Regions from separate parts of the Homo sapiens genome. Here region 1 is linked to region 2. The links come from fine-mapping of genetic effects on gene expression. A gene starts in region 2. The other region holds a variant in brackets. All regions are shown on one strand. Distances are from middle to middle.

Region 1 (15,894 bases), 32 kb before region 2:
TGCAACGTATTTGTTGAAGACAGTGGGATATTCACACTACAGAGCTTCCGGAGGCACTGTGCCCAGGGTGTCCTTCACACCACGGGAGGCCACAGGATGCAGTGGCTGGCCATGGACCTTGCCTATTCCTGGCTGGAATCCACTGCAAAGAGAACTTTCATGGAGCTGCTGTCTGTTCAAAGGGGTACAGGTGGAGGAGGAGCAGACACAATTTCCTGAGGAAAGCAAATGTCACTGTGTCCCTTGAGTTGCCAGCTTCCACAGGGATGTCCCGCCATGAGCCCTCCTCCCAGGGGCTTTCACAGCTGGGTGGGCTGGCATCCTGGGTGCAGTTTAACTGAAGGGGGTGTTCTCACAGCCATCTCCCAAGGCCTGGGGGATGGTGGGCCCGGAGGCCTCAGACCTGCACCTGCTGCCCAGGCGATGGGGTGGCTGGGCCCCGGGTGCCCACAAACTATAGGCAAAAAAAACTGTAAGTCAGTCCTGCAGGGTTTCCTGAACATTTTATGATCCCCAAGTCGTATCTGAACATGTCAAGAATCTCTGGTGCCTTGGCTTGGGTGTAAAGATGAAGTTCTTTCCTCCTCTGTATTCCAGGAGGAAAGAGGGTTTTCATTCCCTTCTGAATGTTAGGAGGGAAGGCATTTTCCATCCTTGACCAGCTTGTAGATGACACACATTCAGCAAACGCACATCCCAGCAGCACCGAGAGAACACACAGGTGTGTCACGCTTTTGCGTTCATAAGGCCTTTTCATGTCAGTATCTTATTAGATATTCCCAAACAAGGGTGTTTTCTCATCTTATAGAAGAGAGGCCTGAGGCTCACAGGGTGAAAACAATTTGCTTAAGCCTGCACAGCAGCTGTGCTGGCAACGTTTCTCCCGGTATAAATGAGAAGCAGCCTTTGTGGCCACAGAGATGTGACTGCTAAGTGCATCGTCCCACCCTGAAGGAGATTCTTCCTCAACAAGAGGACATTAGTGCAAAGACTGATGAAGTCTGTAGTTTCGTGGGTTTTTTTTTTAAGCATAAGGGGTTAAATATTATGTAATTAAGTAATAAGGCAGTTGTGAGGATGCAACTGCCAAAAGTTTGAAAAAAGCTGCCCAGATGGAAATCTGCTTGCATTTGTGCAAGCAGATAGGTGAGGGATTTTTACTGTACTGCCGTGTCCCCTACCTGCCCCAGCTTTATTGAGTTATAATTGACAAGCAAAAATTGTTTATATTTAAAGTGTACAATGTGATGTGGCCTTTTTGTTTTGTTTTGAGACATAATCTTATCACCCAGGCTGGAGTGAAGTGGCGCAGTTTAAACTGCGCAGGCTCATCATCCTCCTTCCTCAGCCTCCTCAGTAGCTAGAACCACAGGTGTGAGCCACCATGCCTGGCTCATTTTTTGATTTTCTTTTTTTAAGAGACAGGGGTCTCCCTGTTTCCCAGGCTGGTCTTGAACTCCCGGGCTCAAGTAATCATCCCGCCTCAGCCTCCCAAAGTGATGGTGTTACAGGCATGAGCTACTGTGCCTGGCCAGAAATGGTAAATTATAATTAAAGGCTTCTGTAAGTCATGCTGTCATATTTTAATGGAAATACCTCCTTTCATTGCAGCTGGGTTGCTTACAAATACACTACTTCAAAGTAAACTTTCTCTAGTAGCATATCAGAAGCAAAGTAAAATCTATTTGGAGCAAGTAAATCTGACTGCTACCCCAGTAAGTTATTGTTTTAATTTTACTTACTTGTTATTGATATATAACTGTACATATTTACAGGGCACATATGATGTCCTGATGCCTGCATACAATGTGTAATGATCAAGTCAGGGTTTATGACACCATTCCCTCAAACACTGATCATTTCTTCACACTCCAAATCTTCTCTTCTAGCTATTTTGAAGCATACATGGGAAGCTGGTTCCTGGACCCCCGCATATACCAAAATCTGTGCATACTCAAGTTCTACGGTCAGCCCTGTGGAACCCAAGCATAGGACAAGCCGGCCCTCCCTATACACACAGGTTTGACATCCTGAGAACACTGCTGGTTCCCTTCCCATTTGGTTCCAGAAAATCTGCGTATAAGTGGACTCAGTGGTGCAAACCTATGTTGTTCAAGGGTCAACTATATATGATGAATTATTGTTACCTACAGTCACTCTACCATGCTACTAAACACTAGAACTGATTCATTTTCTCTGACTGTGTGTCTCTACCCATTAACCAGCCCCTCTTCATCTCCCTTCCCGCTTCCCTCCCCAGCCTCTGGTAACCATCATTCAGTTCTCTACCTCCGTGAAATCAACATGAGTAAGAACTGGTGAAACCCAAACATAGTCTCGAATTTAGCTTTTTTTTTTTTTTTAACTGTAAGAGGCTAAACATTCTTGAGGAGGACACAAAAAAGTCTGAAGACAACTGTCCAGATGAGAATCTTGCACTTGCACAAGTAGAGAGGAGAGTTAGTTTTTATACCATCGCATCCCCAATCCCAGCTTTATTGATGCATAACAAATAAAAATTGTACATATTTAAAGTGTACAATGTGATGCTTTGATATATGTCTACATAGTGCAAATTAGCTCCCACATACAAATGACAACATGCAATATTTCCCTTTCTGTGCCTGGCTTATTTCACTTAACATAATGGCCTCTAGTTCCATCCACGTTGCTGCTAATGACAGGATCTCATTCTTTTGATGGCTGAATAATACTCCATTGTGTATATGTACCATGTTTTCTTGGACATTCAAGTTGATTCCATATCTTGGCTATCATGAATAGCTACAGTGAACATGTACCCTAGTAACATATTGGATAGACACCACACACTTAGGTAGCATAAAACAAAAGAAAGTTATTTTCCTTATATATTAGAAACAGACTAAAGCTGTTTTGAAAAACACCTAATTTTCAAAGTTATTCATGTGTATTAAATTGCACCATAAAAATAACAGGGCCTTTGTCTTCCTGGGATTTTTCTCCTGGGCCTACCTCAGCACGTTCCTCTTTAGATCACATGTTAGGCTACTTTGTAAAGCTGGTCTGACAACAAGAAATGCTATTATGGAGGAAAAGATCTCTTATTTCAATTCTCTTGTTCTCCTAATTTGAAATGGGTTTGTTCATTTTGTTTCTATTTCAAGACCAAGGGGTAGAAGCTCTTGGTTTTTCTGTTTGTGCTGCAAAAAAAAAAAAAAAAAGAAAAAGAAAAAAAAATTCTATTCTATGGTGACAAAACATATTTTTAAAATCATCTATTACAAAATTAGGCAAAGTCACATCAAAAATGGGAAATAAAATGGAAAATCCTACCTTTTTAGATAAGGTAAATTGTAGAGAAAAAAATGATAATTACTAAATACGATCATTTATTTCACTTCTACATGGTAGAAGGTTTATTAAAATAAAGAGTTGGTGCACAGCCGCTGTGGAAAACAGTATGATGGTTCCTAAAAAATTAAATGTAGAATCCCCATGTGACCCAGCAATTCCATCTATCAGTATGCACCCAAAAGAACTGAAAGCAGGGTCTCGAAAAGATATTAGTACACCCATTTTATTTTTAATTTTAAAACATTTTTTAATAGAGATAGGGTCTCACTATGTTGCCCAGGCTGGTCTTGACCTCCTGGGCTCAAGTGATCCTCCTGCTGCAGCCTCCCAAAGCACCAAGGTTACAGATGTGAGCCACCGCAGCCGGCCCACCCATATTTATTGCAGCACTATTCCCAACAGCCAAGAGCTGGAAGCAACCCAAGTGTCCATCAACAGATGAGTGGATGAACAAAAGGTGGTGGATACACACAAAGGACGGCTATTCAGTTTATTTTATTTATTTATTTATTTATTTATTGAGACGGAGTTTCGCTCTTGTTGCCCAGGCTAGAGTGCAATGGCGCAATCTCAGCTCACTGCAACCTCCACCTCCCAGGTTCAACCGATTCTCCTGCCTCGGCCTCCCGAGTAGTTGGAATTATAGGCATGCACCACCACACCCAGCTAATTTTGTATTTTAGTAGAGACAGGGTTTCACCATGTTGGTCAGGCTGGTCTCGAACTGCTGACCTCAGGTGATCCACCCACCTCGGCCTCCCAAAGTGCTGGGATTACAGGTGGGAGCCACCGCACCGGGCCTTCAGTTTATTTTTAATTCAGCTTTTAAAAGCAGGACATTTGTAACATCTACAATAGAGATAATTCTTGAGGACATTATGCTGAGTAAATAAGCCAGGCACAGAAAGACAAAGACTGATTCCACTCCTGTGAGGTCCCCAGAGGATTCATACACATGGAGACAGAGGGTAGAATGGGGGTTCAAGGGCTCGGGTCGGGGTAAGGGGATTGGTGTGTCATGGGGACAGATTGTCAGGTTTGGAACATGAAGAAGCTCTGGAGATGGGTGATGGTGATGGCTGCACAACCACATGAATGCGCTTAATGCCACTGAACTGGACACTTAAAATGGTCAAAATGGTAAATGTTGTGTTCTCTGTATTTTAACACAATAAGAAGAATGGGGGAAAGTGAAGAGCTAGCCACTGAGACAACCAATCACAACACGGCAAGGGCTCGGCATGCCAGGACTCGGTGCCCACTGATCACAAGGCTGGGACCAGTTCCTCTGAAGCACAGGGGTAGCTCTGGCTGAGCTTTAGAAGGAAAATCACGTTGTCTTTGCAAAGGCGAGCCTGTGGTAAGAACCCTGCAGAGTTTGCATCATGAATGAAAAGAGCAGATCTGGGGACAGACACGTGAGACCTGAGTGCAGGAGCGCTGGGAAACCCATCCCCAAGGATGGGACTCTGTAAGGAAGTGGCTTTCTGCTGCAGTGAGCGCATTTCTTCACAATGCCACTGTATGTTGCCTCAGCAGACAGGGTCAGTAATTACCTTGGTTTTGATGTATTTGTGCCTCTTTTAATCTCCCTGATGGTTTCTGAATGTGTTTTTTGTTTGTTTGGTTTGGTTTTTGTTTTGTTTTGTTTCATTTTTGAGATGGAGTCTCGCTCTGTCGCCCAGGCTGGAGTGCAGTGGTGCAATCTAGGCTCACTGCAACCTTCACCTCCTGGATTCAAGCAATTCTTCTGCCTCAGCCTCCTGAGTATCTGGGACTACAGGAGCATGCTACCCACACCTGGCTAATTTTTGTATTTTCAGTAGAGATGGGGTTTCACCATATTGGCCAGGCTGGTCTCAAACTCCTGACCTCATGATCTGCCTACCTCAGCCTCCCAAAGTGCTGGGATTACAGGCATGAGCCATCACACCCGGACCTGAATGTGGTCTTAAAGGCCATATGTCTAGCATGTCACACATGCATAGGAAAAGTCTATGCCTCATTTTTAAATCCTACCTGTGCCAGAGAAAGCCAAATCTGAGATGCCCATCAGCTTCACTCCTAAGATGGTGTGAAAGCATCATGAGCAGAGGGCCTGGCCTTTAGTGACACCCAGCCCTATCCCTTCTGTGGGGAGGTCAGCCATGCCTGGCTCCCGCTCAAACAGGTATGTGTGTGTCTTTAGAAAAATAGTTGCAGAATCTTACTGGAAACCAAGTCTGCACACCACCAAGCCTTGTCACGGAGCTCCCAGTCAGATACTCCACAGCTGGGTTACTGGAACAGTTCAGGGTCTGTGGAATCATAGGACATGTATATCTGGGTCTTTGATGCAATCCAAGAAGACCACAGGCTGCCACTGCCCAGAAAACTGACTCCAAGATTTGCCAAAGGGGAAAAGAAGTTCACAAGGAGAGAAAGTTCTAAAGCGCTCCCCATAGGAACTGACTTTATTTGAAATAGCACATGGGAAAGGAAGTTCAACCCTAAGGGTGCTCTTGAAAACAACTGTTCCTCTTACTTAAGACCAACAAGCTCAACCTCAGGCCAGCTAGTTCACCAGAGGAACTTCAGCAGGACACAGCTAAGAAGAATGTCCTGGGTCAAAACAAACCTCAAAGACTGGGTCAAAATGACCCCCATGCCTGGTTTATTCACTCAACATAATAACCTCCAGTTCCATCCGTGTTACTGCAAATGACATGATTTCATTCTTTTTGATGGCTGAATTATATTCCATTGTGTATATATGCCACATGTTCTTTATCCATTCAGGTACTGCTAGGCACTTAGGTTGGTTCTACATCTTGGCTATTATGAATACTGCTGCAATAAACATGGGGGTGCAGGAAGCCCTTTGATATACTAATTTCCTTTCCTTTGGATAAATACCCAGTTATATGTATCACTAAACAAATACATAAGCAAACAATTGAAAAAGAAATCCAAGAGAGGGAGGAATTGAATCAGAATCCAGAGTTGATAGAATATATTGCCTGAAATATCCAGTTTTCAACAAAAATTAAAATTACGAGGCATGTAAAGAACAGGAAAGTATGACCTATACTGGAGGGAGAGGGAGAACAGACAACATAAACTGTGAGAGGATCCAGATGTTGGACTTTGCAAAGGCTTCAAAGCAGCTATTATAAATATGTTCAGAGAACTTAGGGAAACCACACTTAAAGAAGCAAAGGGAGGTACGATGATGATGTCTCATCAAATACAGAATAAAGAAACAGAAATTATAAAAACAACCAAATGGAAATTCTGAAGTTGAAAAGTACAATGTATGAAATAAAACACTCAATAGAGAAGCTCAATGGTAGGTTTTTAACTGGCAGGGAAAAAAAAAAGAGTCAGAACTTAAGGATAGATTGATAGAGATTCTGCAATCTAAAAAACAGAGAGAATGAAGAAAATGAACAGAGCCTTAAAGAAATGTGGGACACCATTAGGCACACCAACATACACATGAGAAAACCAGCTCCTCACATACAAGGGCAGCCCACTGAGATTAACAGCTGATTTCTCATTGGAAACAATGGATACCAGGAGACAATGGGATAAAAAAAAAAACAACAAGGCAGAGTGATTCAGCATGTAAACGTTTCTTGTCCAAAACAAAATTAAATGACTCTGATGATCTGGAATTCCTACTTTTGTGTGTTTAACTGCTCATCTTTCCCTCACCCAACCTTGAGCACCATGTGGGTACAGGTAACAAAGCACAGACCTCCTGAATCATTTCTTCTCACCAAAACAGCAATTAAAACAGAAACTTTAAAAAATCTCAATCAGAACATTAAGTACAACATGCTTAAAATTATGTTAACATGATTCATGTTAGTGACCATCATTAAAACTGATTTCAAATTCTGAAAGATGCTTTAAACCACCTGCTGGTGAGGACTGGGATATTGTTGGTTGACTTTTAAAAATTCTCTCATGGGTCCTTACTGTTTTCTCAATGTTCAAGATGAATTCAGTTGCAATTATCAACTCAGGTGAAAATCAAAAAATGACCAAACA[G/A]TTTGATAAAGGGTTTCATGAAGCAAAGCCTGTGTAAGAATTTTTAGGCCGGGCATGGCGGCTTGCGCCTGTAATCCCAGCACTTTGGGAGGCCAAGGTGGGCAGATCATGAGGTCGGGAGATCGAGACCATCCTGGCTAACACAGTGGAACTCCGTCTCTACTAAAAATACAAAAAATTAGCTGGGCGTGGTGGCGGGCACCTGTAGTCCCAGCTACCAGGGAGGCTGAGGCAGGAGAATGGTGTGAACCCAGAAGGCAAAGCTTGCAGAGAGCCAAGATCGTGCCACTGCACTCCAGCCTAGGCGACACAGTGAGACTCTGTCTCCAAAAAAAAAAAAAAAAAAAAAAAGGATTTTTAAAAATGTAAAGTGCAGGAATTTTAATAATCTATCCTGCATCCACTGAAATAAATGCCAGAAAATGCATATAAAAATTGGCCCATCGCGCCACTGCACTCCAGCCTGGGCGACAGAGCGAGACTCCATCTCAAAAAAAAAAAAAAAAAATTGGCCCATAGTATTTGCCAAATCTTTGAAAAGGCTATGCAAAGTCTTTTTGCCATGTCCAGGGAAAATGAACCTCTGGGAACCCTTGTCTCAGTGTCAGCAGCATGGTTCTCAGCCTTCTCCCTCCCTGTCATAATTTAAAATTAGAGCCTGTAGAGCCTGGTGGTCACATGGAACACGGTGATTCCTCCTGCCCCCAACAGCTGCCATGTCTCCCTGGAAATGCTAAGATTAGGACAGCACAGATTCCTAGAGTAAAATTAAGGGCCACAATTAACTGGGTGACTTAATTTGGCAATCTTGCAATTCCATTATGATTAGAGAGTGGCTCTTCTCACTGCCATGACTGCTACAGAGTGACTCAGGGCCACCGCTCACTCTGATCTTTCTGAAGAACTTCAAGATCCCAGTTCATGTTCTCCTGGACATTGGGTTCTGAGGGTCAGTTCATGCAACATCCCGTCATTGTCTTCTTGTCCCACTGCTGTGTTGGGAGATGCCCTGGACAGAGTCATTTGTAGAGCACACCACTAAGCTGTCCAGGGCTTCCATGTGGCCACTGCTAGCTCTTCAATAGCCAGCGCCAGGGCTAGCACATCTAGAAGAGTCAAGAGAACAGGCCATTAAGGACAGTGTGCAGAGAAAACAGTCCCAGCAAGAAACAGTCTCTACTCTCTAAGCATTGACTCTTGAATGTGCTAAGAACCTACTCAGGAAGCTGTAGTAATTAAGACAGTCACTCGGGGTTAGAAAAACAGGCCAACGAAAGTAAAGAGAGCCTGGAAACAGGCCCTCACACATTTAGATACCAAGGTGACCCTGTGGAGGAGTGAGAAAAATGTTCTGGATAACAAGATATCTTTTATTTCTTCTAAAAAGAAAGAAAACTGGAGTACTACTTCACACTTATCATGGGTTGAGTGGTGTCCTCCCAAAAAGATATGTTGAACTCCTCATTCCCAGAATCTGTGGATGGGACCTTACTGAGGGACAGGGGCTATGCAGATACAATGAAGTTAAGATGCTGTCCTCAGGGTGGGCTCTAATCCAACCACTGGTGTCCTCATAAGAAGGAGAAATTTAGTCACAGAGACAGACATACACAGAGATGAGATGATATAGAGACAGACAGGAAGAGAGTGGCCATGTGAAGACAGAGGCAGAGACTGGAGGGATGTGGCCACAAGCCCAGGGGCACCTGGAGCCACTGAGAGTTGGAAGAGGCAACGAAGGATCGTCCCCTGGAACCTCTGAAGGGACCATGACCCTGCCCACCCCTTGATTTCAGACCTCTATGGAAGAGTAAAGTCTATTTTTTTAAGCCATTCAATTTGTGGTTATTTATTACAACAGATATAGGAAATAAATACAATGCCATACACGAAACTCAAGCTGATTAAACGTGGAGTTGCCATATAATCCATCACTTCTACTGCTTGATAAATACCCAAGAGAATTGAAACATATGTCCACACAAAAATTTATACATGCTTGCTTGTCCACAGCAGCATGATTTACAATAGTCAAAAGATGAAAACAACCCAAATGTCTATCAACAGACAAATGGATAAACAAGATATGGTATATTCATGCAATGGAATATTAGTAAGCCACAGATGGGAATGAAGTATTGATCCATGCTACAAAATGGATGAACCTTGAAAACATTATGCTCAGTGAAAGAAGCCAGACACAAAAGGCTATATACTGTATGCTTCCATTTATATGAAATATCCAGAAAATGTAAATCCATAAAAACAGGAAGTAGACTGATGGTTGCCAGGGTCTGCAGGGGGAGTAGGGGATGGAATTTTTTAAAATTAAGCTGAGATGAATTTTAAAACTCAACTGGAAAAAAAAGCAAAACAAACTCTTTTAGGATACAATTGAGAACATTTTCAAGCAAGTATTTCTTCAACAAGACACACCAAAAAAACACATATCCCAAATAAGGAAAAAAATAAATTTAATTACATTAAAATGTAAAATGACTATCCAACAAAAGACACCAAAAACAAATGTTGAAAAAGATGTCTGTTACACAGGTGACTTACAGAAATTCTTACCCATGCATTACGATACAGATGCAAGAATATTCAAGGCCAGGCACAGTGGCTCATGCCTGTAATCCCAGCACTTTGGGAGTCTGAGGCAGGAGGACTGCATAAGGCCAGGAGGTCCAGACCACCCTGGGCAACATGGGGAGACTCTGTCTCTACAAAATAAGGTTTTTAAAAACAGAATATTCAAGACAGCTGATGGTGGCAAAAAAAAAAAAAAAACTGGCAACAAACTCAATCACCAAGGGAAGAATCAAATGAATCACAGGACAGGTCTGTCAAAGGTGGGGGCAATCACAGGAAAAAATGCAGTGGACCCTCATGCACTGATGGGGGATGACACCTGTATTACTCCGGATTCTCCAGAGAAACAGAAACAACAGGAGATGGATATAAGTGTCTCTCATTGGTTCTGTATGAACCAGTAAGATACATGATACATGAGATGGATGGATGGATGGATAGATAAGATAAATAGATGATTGACAGGTAGGTACAGAAGATTGATAGATGGATCTAGATAGATTGGATACATGGATGGAGATGGATGACTGACAGATATTGATAGATAGATGACAGACCAACAGACTGAGTGATTATAAGGAACTGGCTCACACGACTATGGAGGCTGAGAAGTCCTAAAATCTGCGGTCAGCAGGCTGAAGACCCAGGGAGCCCACAGTACCATTCTAGCCTGAAACTCAGCAGGCTCAAGATCCAGGAAGAGCCAATGTCTCAGTTTGTGTCCAAAGGCAGGAAAAGACCAACGTCCCACCTCAAAACATTTGGGCAGGAGGAGTTCCCTCTTACTCAGCCTTTCTGTTCTATTCAGGTTTTCAACTGATCGGACAAGGCCCACCCATCTTTGGAAAAGCAATCTGCTTTACTCAGTCACTGACTCAAATGCTAATTTCTTCCAAAAACATCCTCACAGATACACCAGAAATGATGTCTGACTAAATGTTTGGGCATCCCGTGGCCCAGTGAAGCTGACACGTAAAATTCACCATCATGACACCTGTACCCAGCATGGAAAGGCAAGCTGCAGAACATCGAGGGTGCAACCCCAGCTAAGCTGGGAAAAGGGCTACTTGAAAGTGTTGTGTGTGGATATAAGTGTGTGAGTAGAGACATCTATGTCTGCAAGCACAGATGCATCTGGAGGTGAGCACAGACTGCTGACCATGGTGACCTTCAAGAAGATGGAAAATGGACAGGCTTCTTACTCCATGTGCTTCTGTACTGTTAAATTTTATTCAACAAATACACATCCCATTTCCAGTTAAAAAATAACAGGTCCCAGCTGGGTTGAGGACAGGAGCAGCCTTAAACACTTACCGAGCAGCAAGTATAAGGAGCTGATCAGAGCAGCAGAGCAGTGGTTCTCAAAAGTGTGATCCCAGCAGCCTGTGGGTCCCTGGGGCCCTCTTATGACCCCCGAGGTCCCAGTGGTTTCCATGGTGATGCTGAGGTATTGTTTGCCTTTGTCATTCTCACTCCATCATGAGTGTAGAGTTATCTCAAGGATGCAGGACTCCAGTTCAGAGGATCAAAGCTAGATGTTAAAGAGATTTGCCCTCATGATCCAAACACCCCCTACCAGGCCCCGCCTCCAACACTGGGGACTACATTTCAATGTGAGATTTAGTGGGAACACAGATCCAAACTGTATCAAATGTTATAAAAATAAATTTGAAAACAGGTGATATGGACAAGTTCCTCGAAAAACATAATCATCATTTCAATTCATACTCCCCAAAACTGATAAATTTCAACAAACTTTTGTGATTTAAAAAAAAAAAAATCTTAGCAAACTAGGATTTCCAGTTATAAGAACTTTCTCAACCTCAAAAAGAGTACCTACCAAGAAATGTCAACAACCACCAGACCAAGTGGTAAAACAATGATGAACTTTCCTTTAAGATCAAGAGCCAAGTGAGGCACCAGCACCCCTGTTTAACCTGACCCATCAGAGAAAGGAATGGGAAAAAAACTAAACATTTATGGATTACCAAAAACAAACAAAACTGTCATTAATTTAAGATCATATGATTGTCTAAAGTAAAAGCCCCAAGCTACCTATATAAAAATAATTACTAGGAACAATTAAAATTTAGCAAATTTATTTCTAAACATCAGTAACAAAAAATTAGATAAATGCAATTTCGCAAGGATGCCTTTTGCCACAGTATTAAAATTATTTTAAATAAATACATTTAACAAAAGATATATAAGGACTTCAGAAAAATTATACAAACTTTGCAGAATTAAAGTAGGCATAAATAAGCGAGAGACGGCCAGGCGCGGTGGCTCACGCCTGTAATCCCAGCACTTTGGGAGGCCGAGGCGGGCGGATCACGAGGTCAGGAGATCGAGACCATCCCGGCTAAAACGGTGAAACCCCGTCTCTACTAAAAATACAAAAAATTAGCCGGGCGTAGTGGCGGGCGCCTGTAGTCCCAGCTACTTGGGAGGCTGAGGCAGGAGAATGGCATGAACCCGGGAGGCGGAGCTTGCAGTGAGCCGAGATCCCGCCACTGCACTCCAGCCTGGGCGACAGAGCGAGACTCCGTCTCAAAAAAAAAAAAAAAAAAATAAGCGAGAGACATGTAATGTTTTTGGACTTGAAAACTCAGTAACACAAAGACATCAGTTCTCCCCAACTTGACCTACACATTTAATGCAATGCTGATCAAAATGCTATTGTGTGTGTGCATGACTATGTGTGTAAACAGGCTGACTCGAAAATTCACACAGATAAGTCAAAATGTTATTTGAAGAAGACCTTAGCTTGTGATAGCATCATGCCAGTTACTAAGAATGATCCTTATGGTACAGTAATTAAGACATCACGGTACCAGCACAGAAGCAGACAAACAGACAGGGTGGAGCAGAATGAGAAGTCTAGAAAGAAACTCACACAGGTGAACGCATGGAGTCTGACCAAAGTGGCACCCTGGGTCAGTGGGGAAAGACGAACTTTCAGTGAATCGTGTTAGGACAGCTAGTTATGTCAACCAGAAAATGTTAATTCCCACCTCACACCATACATCCACACCAACCCCAAGTAGATTAAAAATCTACAGAAGAAAGGTCCAGGCCAGGCGCTGTGGCTCACACCTGGAATCCCAGCTCTCTGGGAGGCCAAGGCAGGCAGATTGCTTGTGCCCAGGAGTTCAAGACCAACCTAGACAACATGGCGAACCCCCGTCTCTACAAAAACTACAAAAATTAGCCAGGCATGGTGGCGCAATGCCTGTGGTCCCAGCCACTTGGGTGGCTGAGGTGGGAGAATTGCTTGAGGCCAAGAATTTAAGGCTACAATGAGCCATAATCACGCCACTGCACTCCAACCTGGGTGACAGAACGATACCCTCTCATTCATTCATTCATAGAAAGGTATAACTACAGAAGTTCTTATCATGAGGTTAGGGCGGGGAAAGAATTTTTAAGCAAGGCACAGAAAGCACAAACCTTAAGAAAAATAAATAAAAGTTCACTGCACTGGAATTAAAAACTCCTGTCCCAAAAGACACCATTAAAGAAAGACAAGCCTCACACTGATAGAAAATACAGGCAATACATAGAACTGACAAGGATACGCAGATAACGCCTACAAAATCAGCAAGAAGGACAAGGGACTTGGAAAGGCCTGGGACAGGAAAGAAACGGGTGTGGCCAATACACAGAGGGACAGACGGGGCTCAACCCATTCCCAGTCGGGAAATTAAATCCAAGAAACGCCTCTGCTGACCCGTCCACCTGGCGCCTGGGCTGCAGGCCGTGTGTCCACAGGCCATGTGCCCGCAGGCTGTGTGCCTGCAGGAGGAATGCAAACCCTCACCACTTGGTATCCCCTCGCAGCGGCCCTCCATTCTCTGCAGCAGAACGCTTATTGGGGACTGCAGGGAAAAAAGCGTCATTTTCCTCCACTAAGGACAGTTTCTGAACAGTGCCCCCGCCCTGCCCCACAGTGGAAGACTGCAGACCCAGCACCCTATGGGCCCCCAGCCGGGGGTCCTTCCTGGGCTGGTTGGGTTTGGCCTCGAGTACATTGCGACGCTGTGAGGAGGGCCAGTTGCGACACTGTCAGTGACTGCTTGAAAACGGAATGAACTGTCTGTCCACCCAGGTGATGTGAGTAGCACTACTCACAATGGACACGAGGTGGAAGCAGCCCAGGCATCAGATGAATGGATAAACAAAATGACAAACAATCTGATCTTAAAACGGACAAATGACTCAAACACTTCTCCAGAGAAGACACACAACCAACCAAAAAGTACATGGGAAGGTGCTCAACATAGTAACTAGAGAAATGCAAATCAAACCACAATGAGAAATTACCTTGTACCAGGCCAGGCACAGTGGCTCACGCCTGTAATCCCAACACTTTGGGAGGCTGAGGCAGGTGAGCTTGAGCTCAGAAGTTTGAGACCAGCCTGGCCACATGGTGAAACCCCATCTCTACTAAAAATACAAAAATTAGCCAGGCATGGTGGCACACGCCTGTAGTCCCAGATACTCAAGAGGCTGAGGCAGGAACCTGGGAGGCAGAGGTTGCACTCCAGCCTGGGTGATAGTGTGAAACCCAGGCTCAAAAAAATAACAATAATAAAATAAAAAAGAAATTACCTCGTATCCATTAGGATGGCCACTATCCAAAAGCAGAAAATAACAAGTGTTGGCAAGGATGTGGAGAAACGGGAATGCTTGCACACTGCTGCTGGGAATGTAAAATGCTGCAGCTATAATGAAAAACAGTATGGAGGTTCCTCAAAAAATGACACACAAAACTCCCACATAATCCAGCCATTCCACTTCTGGATAGATACCCAGAGGAATTTTATTCTATTTTTGTAGCAGTGGGGTCTTACTATGGTGCCTGGGCTGGTCTCAAACTCCTGGCCTCAAGTGATCCGCCCATCTCAGCCTCCCAAAGCGTTGGGATTACACATGTGAGCCAACATGCCCAGCCTTGCCCAGAAGAATGGAAAGCAGGGTCTTGAAGAGATATTAACACACCCATGTTTACAGCACCACTATACACAGTAACCAAAGGTGGAAACAACCCACATGTATACCCACAGATGAATGGATAAAAACAATGCCGGCCATCCACACGATGGAATAGTATTCAGCCTTGAAAAGGAAAGGGATGCTGACACGAGCTATGACAACATGCTGAATGAAATGCAGCAGACACAAAAGGACAAATCCCATGTGATTCCACTCATAAGAGGCCCCTGGAGTCGTCACAGTCACAGAGGCAGAAGAGAGAATGGTGGTTCCAGGGGCTGAGGAGGGTATGGGGAGTTGGTGTTTGATGGGAACAATTTCAGGCTGGGAAAACAAAGGAGGTCTAGAGATGGGTGGTGGCTGCACAACCCCGTGAATGTGCTGAATACCACTGAATGAGACATTTAAACATGGTTTAAAAGGGTACTTTTTATGTGTATTTCACCACAATTTTTAAAAATAAAAATTTTTTAAACTAATTTCTCATATTTCATCAATTCTGAGAACTCTTCCTCCTGCATTCCAGCCAGGCACATGGGACATGCCTCTGTTCAATGCCACCCCATGGTCACCATCAGACACACAGGGCTCCGTTCTCATGGGCACTGGTACGTCCCCACCCAGAGGCCTCCTCAACTGACCCCGAGTGAGCTGAGACCACAAAGCTGGGCTCAGACTCGCAGGGACTCGTCGGGAGAACGTGGCTGCTCCCTGGTGACCACAGCCTCAGAAACGCAGCCAAATGCCCGGGACTCACGTCCGGGACTCATGCCCTGGAAGCCCATCCTGTTGTATCAGAGCAAAATGAACCAGAGAAGCCGCTGGTTCAGAAGACGCTGCTCTGAGATTTCTCAGAAGGGTCAGGGGAGGAAGGTCAGCGTTCACATTAAATTAATTCTCCCAGCTGTAACTGTTGGTCCTCTGCTGGACCATGGC
Region 2 (15,894 bases):
CGAGGGTGCGTGCAGACAACGCACAGCAGGCCAGGCAGGGTACACCTGGACCAGCGCATGGAAAGCCCTGCCCACAGCCGTGCGCAGCTGAGCCTCCGGAGCTCTCGTCTAAGCAGGCAAAGACGAGCTCACAGGGGCCAGCGCAGACAGACCCTGTTTGCCCAGGGACTGGCAGAACTGCAATAGCCTGCCCGAGGGCATCATCCGGAGTAGTCCCAGAGCCTAGGGCAGAAATGACAACAGTCCGCTGGATGTGGGAGCAGGGATGGGCAGGGCCCCGCAGGGGAACGGTGTGCACAGCCACTGAGAACCAGACCTGCCTGTTCCAGCCCAGGGAAGCCATCGAGGAGCCCAAGGGTCCTAAGGTGGGCAGGAGGGAGGAGCAAGGAGCCCAGGAGGTTGTCAGGGAGGTACAGCATGCCTGAGGCCCACTCTGCCCATGCCCACCACCTGCCTCCCCAAGCCAAGTCTCAGAACCCAATCGGGGCCCCAGAGCCATTCTGACCTGCACTCCAGGCAGCCCTCCTCAGAGGATTTGGGCAGGCACCACAAGAATGACCCCTGACCAGACGGATGGTGGGAAGAGGAGAGGCTGGGCAGCGTGGGGCATGTCGGGGGGGGGGGCACTAAGTGGAGACACCTGGGGTACAGCCACCTCCATGGCTGGGGTTGATTGCAGGTATGGACTGCACAGGGCTTCACAGGCTGGTGGGAGCTGAGACAGGGAGGTAGTAAGACCCCCAGAGGGCCTTCCAGAGACAAGCCCAAGAGCAGGTGGCCCAGCCCCTTCCAGCCAGGAGAGGGCTCAGTCCTTGCCAGTTGCCCAGGGCTTCAGGTGCCAAGCAGGGGCCTGCTGCCCTCATCTCTGCAGTCTCACTCTACCCTGTGGTCATGCCCACGTGCCAGCAGCCACGGAGAACGTTCACGCTCATCACCCAGAACCAGTAGGCACAGGTCTCACTGAGGACCCTGCCGCAGGGAGGGTGGGCATAGCCAGCTGTGACAGCCAGTGAATCTGGCCCACACTCCAGGACAGCGGTCACAGGACATCAAAAACAACACCCACAAGGGAGGGGAACATATGTCATTTACACACGTGGGCTAAGATGACGGGAGGAACAGCAAGGACAGCACAGAGGGGCAGCCGCAGGTGTGCCGCGGAAAGGTCACCACGCCACCAGGGAAACACAGGCGATGTGGCCCAGACAGATGCAGTGGTGAACCTGAACACTGGCCAGCATGAGGAGAAACCAGGTCACTGGCATGCTGCTGGTGGGGAGGCAAAACGGGTGGCCCTCTGGAAGACAGGGTGCAGGTCCTCACAACACCAAACAAGCAACTACTCCACGACCTGGCCCTCTCACTTCCGGGCATGGATCACTGAGAAACGAAGACTGCAGCTCACACAAAACCTGCAGCGAAAGCTCACAGCAGCCAGCTATACTGGTAACAGCCAGAAAGGGAGAATCAAGGTGCCACTACACCATGTGGGACTTCTCAGCAAGAACAGGGAGCTGGAGATGGACAGAAGTGGGTGGATCTGAGGGCACTATGGTGAGGGAAAAGGGTAAGGCTAAAAAGTGACAGGCCGATGCATCCATCTATGACACTCCTGAAATGACACGATTTTACAGCTGAGAACAGGTTTTGGGGTGTTGGGGGTGCCCATTCAGGGGCAGGAGCAGGAAGCCGCGTGGGCCTGAGAATGGCCACAGATATTCACACGTGATAAAACTGCAGTTATACACATGCGTGCACAGACGCACAAAGTAAGACACACAAATCCAGAGACCCCAGATATGCCCTGTGTGTGCAATCAGGGGAACTGGGGAGGGGTCCGTGCGATCTCTCCCACGGGTTTTGTTTTGTTTTTTTTTTTGCAACTTCCTGTGAATCTATAATTATTTCAAAATAAGAAGTGAAAAAACAACAACAACAACAACAAAAAAAAAAAACAAGGAGCTTCGCCTGCAGAGGTGTCCGAGCACTACAAGAGGAAAGGCAGCAGGCAGTCCTTTCATCCCAGCCATCTGACATCAGCGAGTTTTTAACCACGTGCATGCATATTTGTATTTTTAAAATCTATAGTGGGGTCAGCAGACAAAGATGGACCAAAACACAGGTGAGTGGGGGACCCGGGCAGAGGGACAGATGTGAGGTCATGGGCACAGGATGCTGGGCGCCGGACAGGCAGGGAGGAGCTGAGCGACGCCAGGCAGTAGAGGGACAGAGTAAGGGGACTAGAGTGGAGCTGAGGGACCACAGGTCCAGGGTCTAGTGAGCCAGGCACACAGGCACAGGGGAGGCCGCAGAGCCCTACAGGGCAAGGGCAGGAGCTGGGGCAAGGCAGGCAGGGTGGGGCCAGGGTGCCCCATGGGTCCATCAGTCAAGAGTGGAGCCCAGAAAAGATCAAGCTGAGGGCCCCTGCACTCTGAGGTGGGGCCAGCTCAGCTGCCTGCCTTGGCAGGAACCCCCACCCATGCTGACACCCCCTGCTGCCCCCATCTGCTGAGCACTCCCTGGCCTCACACAGGGTGGATGTCCTCACAGGACCCAGGTTCTGGGGTCGAGGGCACTTTCCAGCTCTCTGTGCCGGTGACTGTCTACCAGGCAGCTTCTCAGGACCAGCTGAGCTGGGACATGACCCCCGGGCCCACCCCAACCCCTGCCACACCTGAAGACTGCCAGGAGACTTGCCTCACAGGAGAGCCCCGGCCTGGGGAGCTTTCTCAGCCTCATCATTCTCCATAGTGGGGGCTGTCCAGATGCTAAGCAGCACCCCTGGCCTGTACCCCACCCCATCATGACAACCAAAAATATTTCCAGATACCGCTGAGGGGCGCAGGGGACAGGGTTGCCAAAGAAAATATAGGGTACCTGGTTAAATCAGAATTTCACATCGACAACAAATTACTTTTTTTAGTATATCCCAAATACCGCATAGGATGCACCTACAGATCATCCGTTGCTCGTCTGAGACGGACCTGGGTGTCCTGTGCTTTTGTTTGCTGAGCCCAGAAGCCCCGGTGGGAGCAAGGGTGCAGGAAGAGGAGGGAGGTCAGGGGTGGCTCTGGCCCAGCCAACTGAAAGAAAGGGTCCCCTGGCCATCAGATCCAAGGGTTTCCAGTCATGTTCAGGAAAACACTGCTCTGGGACCCGGCCTGACTCCTTCCCTTCTCTCTCCTCCCTCCTCCCCAGGCCACCAGAGGCCTGACAAGTCTCTCCTGCTCCTCAGTGCTGGCCAGACACAAGGCCACAGCCCTGACACTCTTGGGCCTGCTGAGCCCTGCACTGAGTCCACATCCTTGCCCCGGCCAGCTCGCAGCAAGGCCACTGGACCACAATCCTACCTGCAACATGACCCTACAGCCTCTCTCTGCCTCCTACATGAAGAGAGATCAAAACCAACTGATAGAAAGGGACCCTAAGGAGGCCAGGCATGGTGGCTCATGCCCGCAATCCCAACACTTTGTGAAGCTGAGGCAGGAGAATCGCCTGAGCCCAGGAGTTCAAGACCAGCCCGAGCAACATAGTGAGACCTCAACTACCTGTAGTCCTGGCTACTTGGGAGGCTGAGGTGGGAGGATCACTTGAGCCCAGGAGTTTGAAGGTACAGTGAGCTACAACTGTGCCACTGCACTCCAGCCTGGGCAATGGAGCGAGACCCTGTGTCTAAAAAATAAAAACAAAAAAACTCAGACCCATATGAAAATCTGCACATGGATGTTTACAGCAGCTTTATCCATAATTGCCAAAACTTGGAAGCAACCAATATGTCCCTCAGTAGATGAGTGGACAAATAAACTGTGGTCCATCCAATGGAATACTAACCAGTACTAAAAGAAATTAGCTGTCGGCCGGGCGCCGTGGCTCACGCCTGTAATCCCAGCACTTTGGGAGGCCGAGGCGGGCGGATCATGAGGTCAGTAGTTCGAGACCAGCCTGACCAACATGGTGAAACCCCGTCTCTACTAAAAAAAGATACAAAAATTAGCTGGGCGTGGTGGTGCATGCCTGTAATCCCAGCTACTCAGGAGGCTGAGGCAGGAGAATCGCTTGAACCTGGGAGGCAGAGGTTGCAGTGAGCCGAGATTGCGCCATTGCACTACAGCCTGGGGGACAGAGCAAGACTCTGTCTAAAAAAAAAAGAAATTAGCTGTCAAGCTATGAAAAAACATGGAGGAATCTAAACGCATATCACTAAGTGAAGAACGCCAATGTGAAGAGGCTACAGATGCATGAGTCCAACTACAGGACATTCTGGAAAGCATGAAACTATGGAGACACTGAAAACATCAGTGGTGGCCAGGAGTTAGGGGAGATGGATGGATGGGCAGGGCACAGAGGATTTCAAGGCAGTGACACTACTGTATGTGATGCTACGATGGTAGACATGTGTCATCATACATTTGCCTAACTCATGAACACACCAAGCCAAGAGTGAGCCCTCATGGAAACTGTACTCCAAGTGATGATGGCATGTCAACAGAGGTTCATCAGTTGTGACGAAAATAGCACTCTGGTGGGGGAAGTTGTGAGGTAATATGGGAAATCTCTGCACATTCTGCTCTTTTGCTGAGAACCTAAAACTGCTCTAAAAAGCAACTCCTATTAAAAGACAACAACCAAATAACTATAGTTTCATCTGAAAGAAGGTGCTACATTCAGGAAACAAGAATAGGGTGCTTTAAGGAAGCGATGGCTCAGGATGATATATTAAGTATCAAAGTTGAAATAAAAAATCCTACAGTCAGGAAAAAACCATAAAGGAATGATGGGCAGGGAATGACCAGAGAAGCAGGAACACACAGAGGCTTCCAGGGAGAGGTGGTCCCTGACCTGCAGGCTGCCCTCTCCCCAGAGGAGTGACCAGAGGGGGCAAACCACAGAGAGGGAGGTCAACAGCCAACAGCAGCCCGACAAGGAAAAGAGTTTACACTCTCATGAACTGAACTAAACGTGCCCAACGAGCGCAGCCCTAAGCCCACCCATGCCACATAGCTGGGAGGGGTGGCATCTGGACACCTGTCACCCACCACCCCTGGGGAGACACTCAAGGAGGTAACCTTGTTGTGTCCCTCTTCTGACGGCTGAGGAGAAACAGGGCCATGAACTCCAACAGAACTGAAGCTAGAGGGTTTCAAGTATTATTACACAGATGCTGAATCCCACGGAGGATGGTCCCGCCCCACCTGACCCCTCAGAGTGGAGCTCCCTGGCCTGTGACGTTGTGTCACATCTCAGAAGGGAGACCAGAGTTGGATGACGTCACCCTTCAGTGCTGAGCTGGGGAAGAACAGAGCCGCCTCCAATGCCCTCAGCACTCAGAACAGTGGCGGACACACCAGACACCCAGCACAAGTGAAGAAAATTAACTCCTCCTGCAGACCTCGAGGACAGAGACCCCCACAATGAGAGCAAATAGAAAGACACAGAGGAGCCACCAAGCATATGCTTGGTAAGGGGAGCTGGGGCCCAGTAGGTCTGCAGACAAGCTCCAGACCAGGCAAGAAAGGATGAAGAGGAAAAAGCCCTGAGACACAGAAAGGACAGACAGCTGACCCTTGAATGATGCAAGGGCTAGGGACACTGGCCCCCACACAGTTGAAAACCCACCTTTAAGCTTTGACTCCCCAAAAGCTTAACTACTAACAGACTCCTGTTGACTGGAAGCCTTATGCATAACATACGCAGTCAAGTGGCACATATTTTTTATGTTTTATGCTATTATATACTGTATTACAATACGGTAAGCTACAAATCCCAGGAAGAAAATCCTAAGGAAGAGGAAATGTAGTTCCACTTCACTGAATGGAAATGGATCAACATAAACATCTTCATCCTCATGGTCTCCATGTTGAGTAGGCTGAGGAGGAGGAAGGAGAAGAAGGGTTGGTCTTGCCGTCTCAGGGTGGCAGAGGTGAAGGAAAATCCACGCATAAGTGACCTATGTAGTGCAAAGTCAGCTGTACTTTACACCACAAAACACTTATTAAGAATAGGAATTCAATTGAACTAGGACTCAAAGGGAAAAGGACAAGAGAGGACTATAGAAATATGGAAGGGAATTTGGGGACCAAAATCAACATCATTGTAAGGCTAACATGTGAACAGCAAAGTACTAACATAGAAGGCTCCAGAGAATCAAAGAATGTAGTTCTTAAGATGAAGAAATTAAAGCAGCTAGACAGAATGTAATGAATACATAAGACAGACTATGATGACTATATCTCTGAACTGGGACATGAAGATTTAAGCCTATTGAGCTAGGGTGGGCACACTTTTTCTGTAAAGGGCCAGTGAATAACTTAGGCTTGAGGGCCACACTCGTGCCACAACTCTACCACTCCAGACAAAAGCAGCCCCAGGCCGGGCACAGTGGCTCACACCTGTAATCCCTGCACTTTGGGAGGCCGAGGCGGGTGGATCACCTGAGGTCAGGAGTGTGAAAACAGCCTGGCCAATATGGTGAAACCCTGTCTCTACTAAAAATACAAAAATTAGCCGGGCATGGTGGCAGGCACCTGTAGTCCCAGCTATTTGGGAGGCTGAGGCGGGAGAATCTCTTGAACCCTGGAGGCAGAGGTTGCAATGAGCCAAGATTGTGCCATTGCACTCCAGCCTGGGCAACAAGAGCAAAACTCCGTCTCAAAAAAAAAAAAAAAAAAGAAGCCCCAGACCACCTGGAATCCAACGGGTGGGGTTCCCAGAGAATTTTATTATAAACACCGGCAATGGGCTGGGTCTGACCTCAGGGCCGTATTTCACCAACTCTGGTTCTAGATTTAAAGAGCCCACTAAGTGCCCAGAGATGTGATATGGAAAAAGCCCAAACTAAGACACATCAGCATGACATTTCACGACATCAAGAATAAAGAAAAGCTTCTGAGAAAAACACAGTTCACATACAAATAAGAACGGCACCAGACTTCTCAGAAAAGCTGGCAGCGAGAAAACAAAGTTGTGATGTGAACATTGTCGGTGACAATTTCCAAGCTAGATTTTTACACCCAGCCAGGATATCAGGTAAAGCCACTAGCAGAGACACAATGAGTCCAAAAATTCACCCCACGTAGCTCAGGAAGTCATTAAAAAGGTGTCCATCCCCTGAAACCAAAACACAGGAGTAAGCTGAAGAGAACAAGAACCGGGTCCGCCATAGCAGGGACAGCAGGCAGGCGGCCGCGAACCAGATCCACTCCACCGGGCGGAGGTTTCAGGGATCCAGGTCCCTGGAAGCTGGGCAAGGGAAACCCAAGGCTGTAAGCAGTCAAGGCCCTGACCCGGCATGAACATCACTGACAGTCGTGATGTCAGCACAGATGACTGAGCCAAATGCCAATGTGACCAGCTATGGGGAGACACAGGGAAACACAAGGTAAACAGAACTCGGGAGTGTCACCACAAGCTGTCACTCAGAAACACAGCTCTGCCACCAGGCGGGGCCCCTGAACCCCTTGTCCCTGCGGAGGGAGAAGGGTCACCAGATGGCCCACTTGGGAGGTGCCCACCTAGAGACGCCTCTGCTCTGATATGGTGGGCTGGCCCCCAGGCCTCCCCTGGATGAGTCGCTGACCCATCCCTGGGTGTTGAGCCAAGCCCTCCTCTGGGTGCCCTCCCCCGGGTGCTGGGCCCTGGGTGAGCTTCCCCTGGGTGTCCATCCCAAGTGGAATCTCCTGGGTGCCTGACCCTGAGTGCCAGTCGCTGGCCCACCCACCCTTGAGCTTCCACCCCATCCCGGCCCTCCCCGGGTGCCCACCCCCCACGCCCTCTGCAGGCCCCGGGCGCCCGCCCTGTCCCTGGGTGCCGGTCCCTGGCCACTCCCCTGGGTGCCCGCCCCCGAGCGCCCTCCCAGCACGCGCTCACCCGTACAAGATGACGTCATAGAGCGTCCGGCCCTGCACGTTCAGGAAGTGGGCGTAGCCCGCGCGCGCAGCAGGCGGGGCCCCCGCGGCCGCAGGACTCGGAAGCGGCAGTTCATTGGTCAGCAGCCCTAGCAGGAAGGGCGCCGCGTCGGGGCCACGCACGCGCAGCAGGGTGCGCCCGTCCAGCCGGAAGCAGGCCCAGGCCGCTCCGGCCGTTGGGTCGCCACCAGGACTGCAGGAGCTGTGGGCCAGGCGGCACCTTGGGGCCGCGCGCAGCCGCCAGCGCCAGACCGGGCCGCCGCGCCCCGGAGTGGCGCCTCGAAGCAGCGCCGCGGTCGCCATCTTGGACAAGAGTGGGGCAGCGGGAAGGGCCCAAGGAAGCGGGAGGGGCGGGTGCCACAGCGGCCCCTGGCGGTGGCCGCCGGAGGGAGGCGGGAAGGGGCGGGCGCAGAGTGCGTGCGTGAGGGGTGAACGGAACGTGCGTGCCTGAGGGGCGGAGCAGCGCCGGTTGAGGCCGACTGAGAGTGCGTGCGTGAGGAGCAGGGCCTCCCGAGCTGGAAGGGGCGGGCGGGGCGAGCGTGCCTGCTGGGTGGGTGGGGCATGCGTGTGGGGCGGAGCATCGTGCGCGGGGTGTGTTTCGGGGCGGGGACTCGGCCTATCCGTCAGCACGCAGGCTCCACCCTCGGTAGGTAACGAGGTTTCTGCCGGCCTCTTAAGCGCCATCCCATGTCCCATTCGGTGGCCTTCCTCGTTTTCACCCACCCATGTCGGGCACCGTCACTCATCTCGAGAACCTCTTCATCCTCCCAACCTGAAACTCCCTGTTAAACACCCACTCCCGAGGCCCTGGAGCTCCCATTGTACCTTCTGGCTCCATGAGCGTGCCTCCTCTAGGGACCTCACAGGAGCAGAATCCTACGGGATTTGTCGTTTGCGACGGCTTATTTCACTCAGCATAGTATTCTCAAAGTCCATCCACGGTCTAGCATGTATCAGCATTTTATTTTTATTTTTATTTTTATTTTTATTTTTTGTAAAGACAGGGTCTTGGTTATGTTGCCCAGGCTGGCCTCAAGCTCCAGAGCTCAGGCAGTCCTCCCTCCTCAGCCTCTTGAGTAGCTGGAACTACAGGCGCTAGCCACCACACCAGCTAATTTTTGTATTTTTTTTGTAGAAATGGTCTCCCCATGTTGTCCAGGCTGGTCTCAAACTCCTAGGCTCAAGCGATTCACCGGCTTTGGCCTCCCAAAGTGCTGGGATTACAGGCGTGAGCTACCGCACCCGGCCGCTTCCTCTTTCCTACCAGTTCGCCAGCGTCCACGTGTGGCTGTTGTGTCATTTTTTTCATTTGCTGGACCATTGGGACTTCAGCTGCAGGTGGCAGGAGGCTCCATCCCCAAGTGTCTCCACGGATAAGGACAGGCACCATCCAGCCCACAACCCCTCCGCACCCCTAATCAGTGTGACATGATGAGACACAATCACAGCTTCAAATCACATCCTTGGTAACTTCTGCTTTTTTCAGGCCAGGGTCACCCCCATCATGTGTCTATAGTCCTCTTCAGTGCAGGATTCCAAGCTCCCCTGGAGCCCAGCCTGTCCTCCCACAGGACGTCCTTCCAGACCACAGGACGTCCTTCCAATAACTCTCGTCCTCTCTTCACAGCTGAACTCACAGAGGACAATTTAGGCAGGAACCACACACTGCTATGACATATCCACCCCACCGTGCTTTCTCGAGGAGTGATGTCCCATACCCCCTGCTGAGCAGCCCTGTACAGTGGCCACTTTCCCTGGTAGTAGGTGACACATCTACAAGGTGGCCCCAGCAGCCTTCAGCCCTAGAGTCTGACTGCCCTGGTCCAAGCCATCCCTGCCTTGCTGGCCTCCTGGGGCCCATGCACCCTGTTGACATTCCCCTCTCCACTGCCCTCCACTCAAAGCACCAAAGAAGACTTACTCAATGTGTCCTTATGGTGCAGAGTCCCAGCAAGCAGAGGTCTTTGTATCTGTTGAATAAAAAAATTCCTCATGATGCGTAGTAACATCAGTGAGGAAGACTGCACCAAGGCGCATCATGTGGTGTGGGGCCCTGCCTGGCGGCCTTGGGGGAGATGGAGCTCAACCCCAACACAGCAGGGCAGAGGGTGGAGAAGCCGAGGAGCAGCGTGGGGTCTGTGGGTGGGAATGACTAAGGAGACATCAGGGCTGAGGGGTCTGGCTAAACCCACCTCACAGGGTCCTTGCTCTAGGCAGGCAGGGTGATCAGACGTCACCAGGTGATGGTGGAGGATGAGGGACCTGGTTGGATGTCATCGAGGGTGAGATATCCAGGGTGTGGGGTTCTGGCTAAACTGACTCAGTAGGGCTCTTACTAAAACTGGATTTTCCAAGCAAGTGCACAGATGGGCCTAGGAGAAAGTTCCAGATCCCAGCCGGAGTTTGGCCAAGCAGAAAGTCTCTGCCATAGCTCCCTGCCGTGTCCTGAGGGCCTGGGCCAGCAGCCGGCATGCCTTAGGGGCTCAGGTGACATTGGGCAGTCAGCGAATTCCCGCAGGCCCTGGATGTGGCCATGGAGGCCCTGCCGTTAGCCCACTCTCTTCACTGCAGCTTCCTCATCCCTGGAGCTCCCGCTTGCCCTTCTGGACCCTCCTCACAGCATCCCCACCTGCCCCAAGCCCTGTGAGGCCCCGGACCCTGCCTACCCAACCAGGCGAGGCTCCGGGCATGGTGAGGAGCCTGGAGCAAATCAGCTGGGTCCCCCAAGGTCCCTGGGCCTCAGTCCCCCGCCAGACGCCAGCTTCCTGACTGAGATAGGCCAGGCCTAGAATGCGCTCCCTAGCCACTGGCTGCAGCCGCCACCCCTTCCTCTGCCAGAGCCTGGCGTTCCTGAGGGTGACCCGGTACCCCCCGGGCAGCCCCATGCGGACAGAGCGGAAGGCAGGCAGGATGAAACCCGGGGCAGGGAGTGGCGCAGACAACACCCACGGGCGGGGGTCGAGTTCCTCTGGGCTCACGTCAGCCTGGTCCTCAGCCAGAGGAGGAATTTGCTTCCACCCCTGCACAGGCAGCAGGAAAGGCGTGCGGCAACCTGGTGCCCCGGGCCGGGCCCACTGGCTCCGAATCTGTCCTGCCTAGGCCCCCCCACCCCAAAGAAGCCACCACCAACACCAGGGGCCACTTCAGTTCGAATGGACTCAAAGGAAACAGAGCTTTCAGCTCCAGAGTCCTGGGGGCCACATTCCAGTGCCTGAGCCATGTGAGGCCGTAACTCCAGGCCACCTCCAAGAAGCCTTCCTGGACTCTACACCAGCCACCCTGGCTGCTGTTCTCCTTATCAGCAGGCAGGGGACTGGGGCCTGGCACCTGGGGGAGGAAACCCCGCCCCTGTCCTGGCTTCAGGGACCAGGCTGAAGCAGGGGCCAGGGGAGTGAGAACTGGAAAATGCCTGGGCGTAGGGGTCGCAGCCCCTGCTTCCCAGGTACTGTGGGGGGGTTGGGGGAAGGTGGTTTCCTGTTATTCTCGCCTCAGGGCTTCCTCCCTTCCTAGAGGAAGGAGAGTGCCACTGCCCTATTCTGAGGGAGTCTCTGAGCAGCTGGCCCCTCACCCCACTATGCACTCCCATGAGCAGCCGAGAGTTTTGGCTGAGGTTGTGGAAACGGATGGAGGTGAGACATGGAGTCCCATCCCGCCAGCCTGCTCCAGCACCGCCTGCTCTGGGTGTGTCCTGCTGTGTACAGGGCTGGGCCCACCAGCGACTGGCCCCCCTGCCAACCTGCCTCAGAGCTCGGAAGATGCAGGACAGAGGAGGGAGGGGGGCTGTGGTGTCAGCAGTGCCAGGCTCAGCTCATCACCGTCGTGGCCTCCCCAGGTGGCTGGGGAAACCAAGGCAGGGGTTTTCTAAAAGTGACTGATCAAGCGCCAGGAGTGCGAGATGGGTTTAGCTTCTGGGGGTCCGCAGACTGGAGCAACTAAGATACCACGTCCCACTGTAGTGGGAGATGCCAGGCCTGCGTGGTGGTGTGGGGCTCAGGCATGACATTGTGGGAACGTCCAGATTATCCAGGACTTGGTCTTAGAGGGAGGACTAGCAGATGGCGTGGAGGCTTGGGCTTGCACAGCCTCTCCTGGCTAGGGCCATCCCGCTGGGAGGGTGTGGTAACAGAGCCTAAGCCCACCAGCAGATGCTCACAAACCTGATGTGGCCCACCCACCCCCAAATGTTCAAGAAGGGAGGTCTGTCCCAGGGTCCCGTCTCCCCTTCTCTTGTGGCAATCCAGCTTCCCACTGGGCATATACCCTCTAATACCAGCAGAATTGTCCCCTCGAAACTCCTGTGCTGAAGCCCTAACCTCCAGGAACTTCAGAATGTGGCTATAATTGGAGACAAAGCCTTTAAAGAGGTGATTAAGTTAAAATGAGTTCATTGGGGTGGGTCCTAATCCACGGTGGCTGGTGTCCTTAAAAGAAGAGGAGATTAGGACACAGATGCACACAGAGGGACAGCTGTGTGAGGACACACGGGGGAGATGGCATCCACGGGCCAAGGAGGGAGGCTGCAGGAGGAACCAGCCTCGCCCACACCTTAATCTTGGCCTTCCCTTCTAGGACTGTGAGATAATCAGTGTCTGTTGTTTAAGGCACCCAGTGGATGATGCGGTGCTATGGCAGTCCCAACGGGCACACCCTCCAAGTTTGAGATCATTTCCAGCTTCCCTCGAAGCTGGGGTGCCCTTTGAACAGCTCTGGCTGGGGGATGTGTACTAGCCAGGGTTCTCCAGAGAAACAAAACCATAGGAAATATAGACACAGATACTATATACTATTTTTATATCTATATCTAGATATATAGCCAAAGACTAAAGTTTCCCAAAGAAGCAGCAGTTCTGCCTCCAGTCTGCCTGTGATGGCTAATTTTATTTATTTTGAGACAGGGTGTTGCTCTGTTTCCCAGGCTGGAGTGCAGTGGTGCCATCACAGCTCACTGCAACCTCGACTTCCCTAGCTCAAGTGATCCTCCCACCCCAGCCTCCTGAGTACTGGGACCACAGGTGCATGCCACCATGCCCAGCTACTTTTTAAATTTTTTGTAGACATGGGGTCTGTGTTGCTCAGGCTCATCTTGAACTCCTGGGCTCAAGTGATGCTCCCATCTCAGCCTCCCAAAGTGCTGGGATGACAGACGTGAGACAGTGCTTGGCCTGTGATGGTTCATTTTATGTGTCCATTTGACTGGGCCACAGGGTGCCCAGATATGGGGTCACACATTATTCTAGGCGTGTCTGTGAGTGCATTTCCAGATGACACTAAGACTTGAATAGATGGACTGAGGAAAGCAGATTGGCCTCTGCAATGTGGCTGGCCTCGTCTGATCAGGTGAAGGCCTGAACAGAACCAAAGGTGGAGGAAGGGTGAGCCATGCACAGTTGCCCAGCATGGCTGGACACCGCGGCCCCCACCACAGGGACCTGGCCTCCCCCGTGACGGCACCGCCAGCAGCACAGCCCCAAACCCTTCCTGTCTTGGAGAGGCTCCTGGTGTGTCCCCACTGGAGTGGACACCTGTTGGGGTTGGTGTTTGCTTTTCTTCCCTGAGGCTGCACTTTCGGCATTTCTGTCCGTGGCTCCCTGAGTCAGGGCTCACATGGGGCCAGAGGTCAGCCAGGCAAGCCCCAGAAAGGAGAGGGACTCAGCTTGCAGTTGGCATCTGCCCGGAGCTGGGCTTCGGTGAGACTCAGGGCTCAGCCTGGGCTTGAGTCTTGGCTGAGGGACACCACAGAGAGAGGGGTGTGCAGCCCAGGAGGGGCAGCCGGCCAGGCTGCACCAGGCCTAAGGGAGGCTGGGGGGTAGCCAGTCACCCGGAGTGTGCTCCAGGGGCTAATGAGCCCCCCTGCCCCTCGCCAAAGCCACCCCTGCAGGCTCTGGCCGACGTCCTGGTCATGACGGGGCCTGAGACAGCCGCCCTCCATCCACTGAGCTGCGGCCCAACCTGAGGCTCTGAGTGTTTTCTTTCTTTCTCACCATCAGTGCACTCCACCCTGCCCCACCCACCCCTGCCCCCGGCACGCTGCCTGGCACCGAGCAGGCCCCGAGTGTTGTCTGACAAGCTACAGGGGCTCGCCTGTGACCATACTCCCCTGCCAGTCCCTGGGGAGGGGTCTCCTCTCCCAGCCAGCCTGGAGCTAAGCCATGTCTCCCCATGTGGTAGCCATGCACACACACCCATGCATACACATATAAGCATACACCCAGACATGCACACAATGCACATACATGTGCATGCAGTCACACACATAGCCACACGTGCACATGCATACACATGCACACACAAGGTTATAAACAAGTTAGTTTTATTTTACTCCCTTTCCTCTTGAGGCTGGGTCTGAATTAGGGAGGAGGACAGACAGGCCACAGGCAGGAACCCAGAGCCCCATTCCCCCAGCATGGCCAAGCCCCCAGGCCCTGACCACCACCCATTGGGTCCAAGCTGCAAGGCATATCAACATCTTTGCAGAACTTCAAGCCTCCCAGAGGAACGGAAGGCCGGCATCGCAGAAGCTCAAAGAGGGTATGGTCCTGTCCACCCCAGGCTCCCAGCTCCCAGTCTGTCTCAGTTTGGGGCTGGGAAGGGGAGGGCTGAAGAAGGAGCCCCATTTGCTGTTGCAGGGAATGGGGACACGCACCCCCGCACCCCCACCAACTGATGCCCATACCAGGCACCCTGGGCCCTCCATGGGTTGCTGCAGGGAAGCACAAAGGGGAGAGCTGGCATCCCAGAGGACCTATTCCAGCTCAGGACAGGGGTGGAGTCAATGCCCCACTCCCCCTGGGGTTCAGACCACAGCAGAGGGCCCTTTCTGGCTCCTAGGCCTCTCTCCACCCCACCTTGGCCCCAGTGGTGACCAAGCCAGGGCACTCCTCTGCCGCTTTCAGCCCCTTCCCTGAGCAGCCTGGCTGCCCCTCTGGGCAGAGTCTGCCTGAGGCCACCGGCTAAGGAGAAGGCTGAGGAGAAGGGGTCGCAGGTTTCCACCGGAGCCCCCCAACCCTCCTCCTCCCTGGCCCAGCTCGCAAGCCAGCGCCCTCAGATCCACACGGTGGTCTTCCCGTCCCTGCTGCTGGCACTGCCCTTCTCGGAGCCAGCCCTGGGCTTGGCTCCTGGCCGCTCGTGGGTGCCGGGCCGGCCCTGCTCCCCGACAGTGCCCGCAGAGGTAGCACTGCCCGTCCGGGACGCGGGGGCGCCTGCTCTGGGGGGCCCCCGGGAGGCCGCAGGGAGGCCGACGCACGGCGAACTGTCCCGGTCGCGGTCCCCAGCCGCTGCCCCGTCGCGCAGCGCCTGCAGGGCCAGGTTTGCCAGGTTCTGGTCATGCGCCCGAGCGCGCTCGGCCGCCCGCACCACCAGGCTGTAGTCGGGCGGGCAGGCCAAGCCAGCGGCCGCCGCAGGGAAGGCGCAGGGCGGGGGCCGCGGCGCGGGGGCGGGGGCGGAGGCCGGGGGGCCGCGGCGGCCGCGCACCGCGTCCTGCGCGCTGCCCAAGCCCAGGTGGGCCATCTCACAGAGGTTGAGCAGCAGGCACAGGCAGCTGACCACGTACATAACCAGCAGGAAGACCGTCTTTTCAGTAGGGCGCGACACGAAGCAGTCCACCACGTGCGGGCAGGGCTGGCGGCTGCAGGGAAAGAACGGTCGCACCTCGAAGCCGTACAGCAGGTACTGGCCCACCAGGAAGGCCACCTCGAAAGCTGCCCTGGCCACCAGCTGGGCCACGTACACGCGCATCAGGCCCTCCCGCTGGATGCGCCTCCGCCCATCGTGTTGCCCGGTCGGGCCCGGGGTCCCTGCCGCCTTGCCGTCAGCGCCGACCGCCTTAGTGCACGCCTCCTCCGCGCCTGCCTCCTCCGCTTCCTCGCCGGCGCCCTCGGCTGCCCCCGTCTCCTCCTCCTCCTCCTCCTCGCCCAGGCCCAGCATGGGCTCCTCCTCGCCCAGGTCGGCGGGCTCAGGCCAGCCGGCGTGCGGGGGCGGCAGGTGCGCTCGG

What was found.
Region 1: its variant is fine-mapped to the expression of IBA57 in whole blood (INTERVAL, PIP above 0.99).

What each region holds. Positions count from the first base shown.
Region 1 is chr1:228,190,151-228,206,044 of GRCh38, reverse strand. LOC124904536 (a long non-coding RNA gene) reads right to left here. Exons shown (of 2, transcript XR_007066917.1): 1 at 11,278-15,894; 2 at 2,465-8,477. It overlaps OBSCN-AS1 (OBSCN antisense RNA 1), which reads left to right. Exons shown (of 2, transcript NR_073155.1): 2 at 1,890-2,539. Among named protein-coding and RNA genes, the nearest start is that of OBSCN, 9.9 kb to the left of the region's middle. RefSeq lists an enhancer at 12,360-12,860. The variant G/A (reference allele first, on the strand shown) is at 7,372.
Region 2 is chr1:228,158,130-228,174,023 of GRCh38, reverse strand. It overlaps IBA57 (iron-sulfur cluster assembly factor IBA57), which reads right to left and starts at 8,220. Exons shown (of 3, transcript NM_001010867.4): 1 at 7,867-8,220. The coding sequence starts at 8,207. It overlaps IBA57-DT (IBA57 divergent transcript), which reads left to right and starts at 8,512. Exons shown (of 2, transcript NR_103540.1): 1 at 8,512-8,550; 2 at 9,532-9,938. LOC124904534 (a long non-coding RNA gene) reads right to left here and starts at 12,830. Exons shown (of 2, transcript XR_007066913.1): 1 at 10,571-12,830; 2 at 8,842-9,874. GJC2 (gap junction protein gamma 2) reads right to left here. Exons shown (of 2, transcript NM_020435.4): 2 at 14,198-15,894. The coding sequence ends at 14,946. RefSeq lists a silencer at 7,589-8,628 and an enhancer at 7,733-8,635.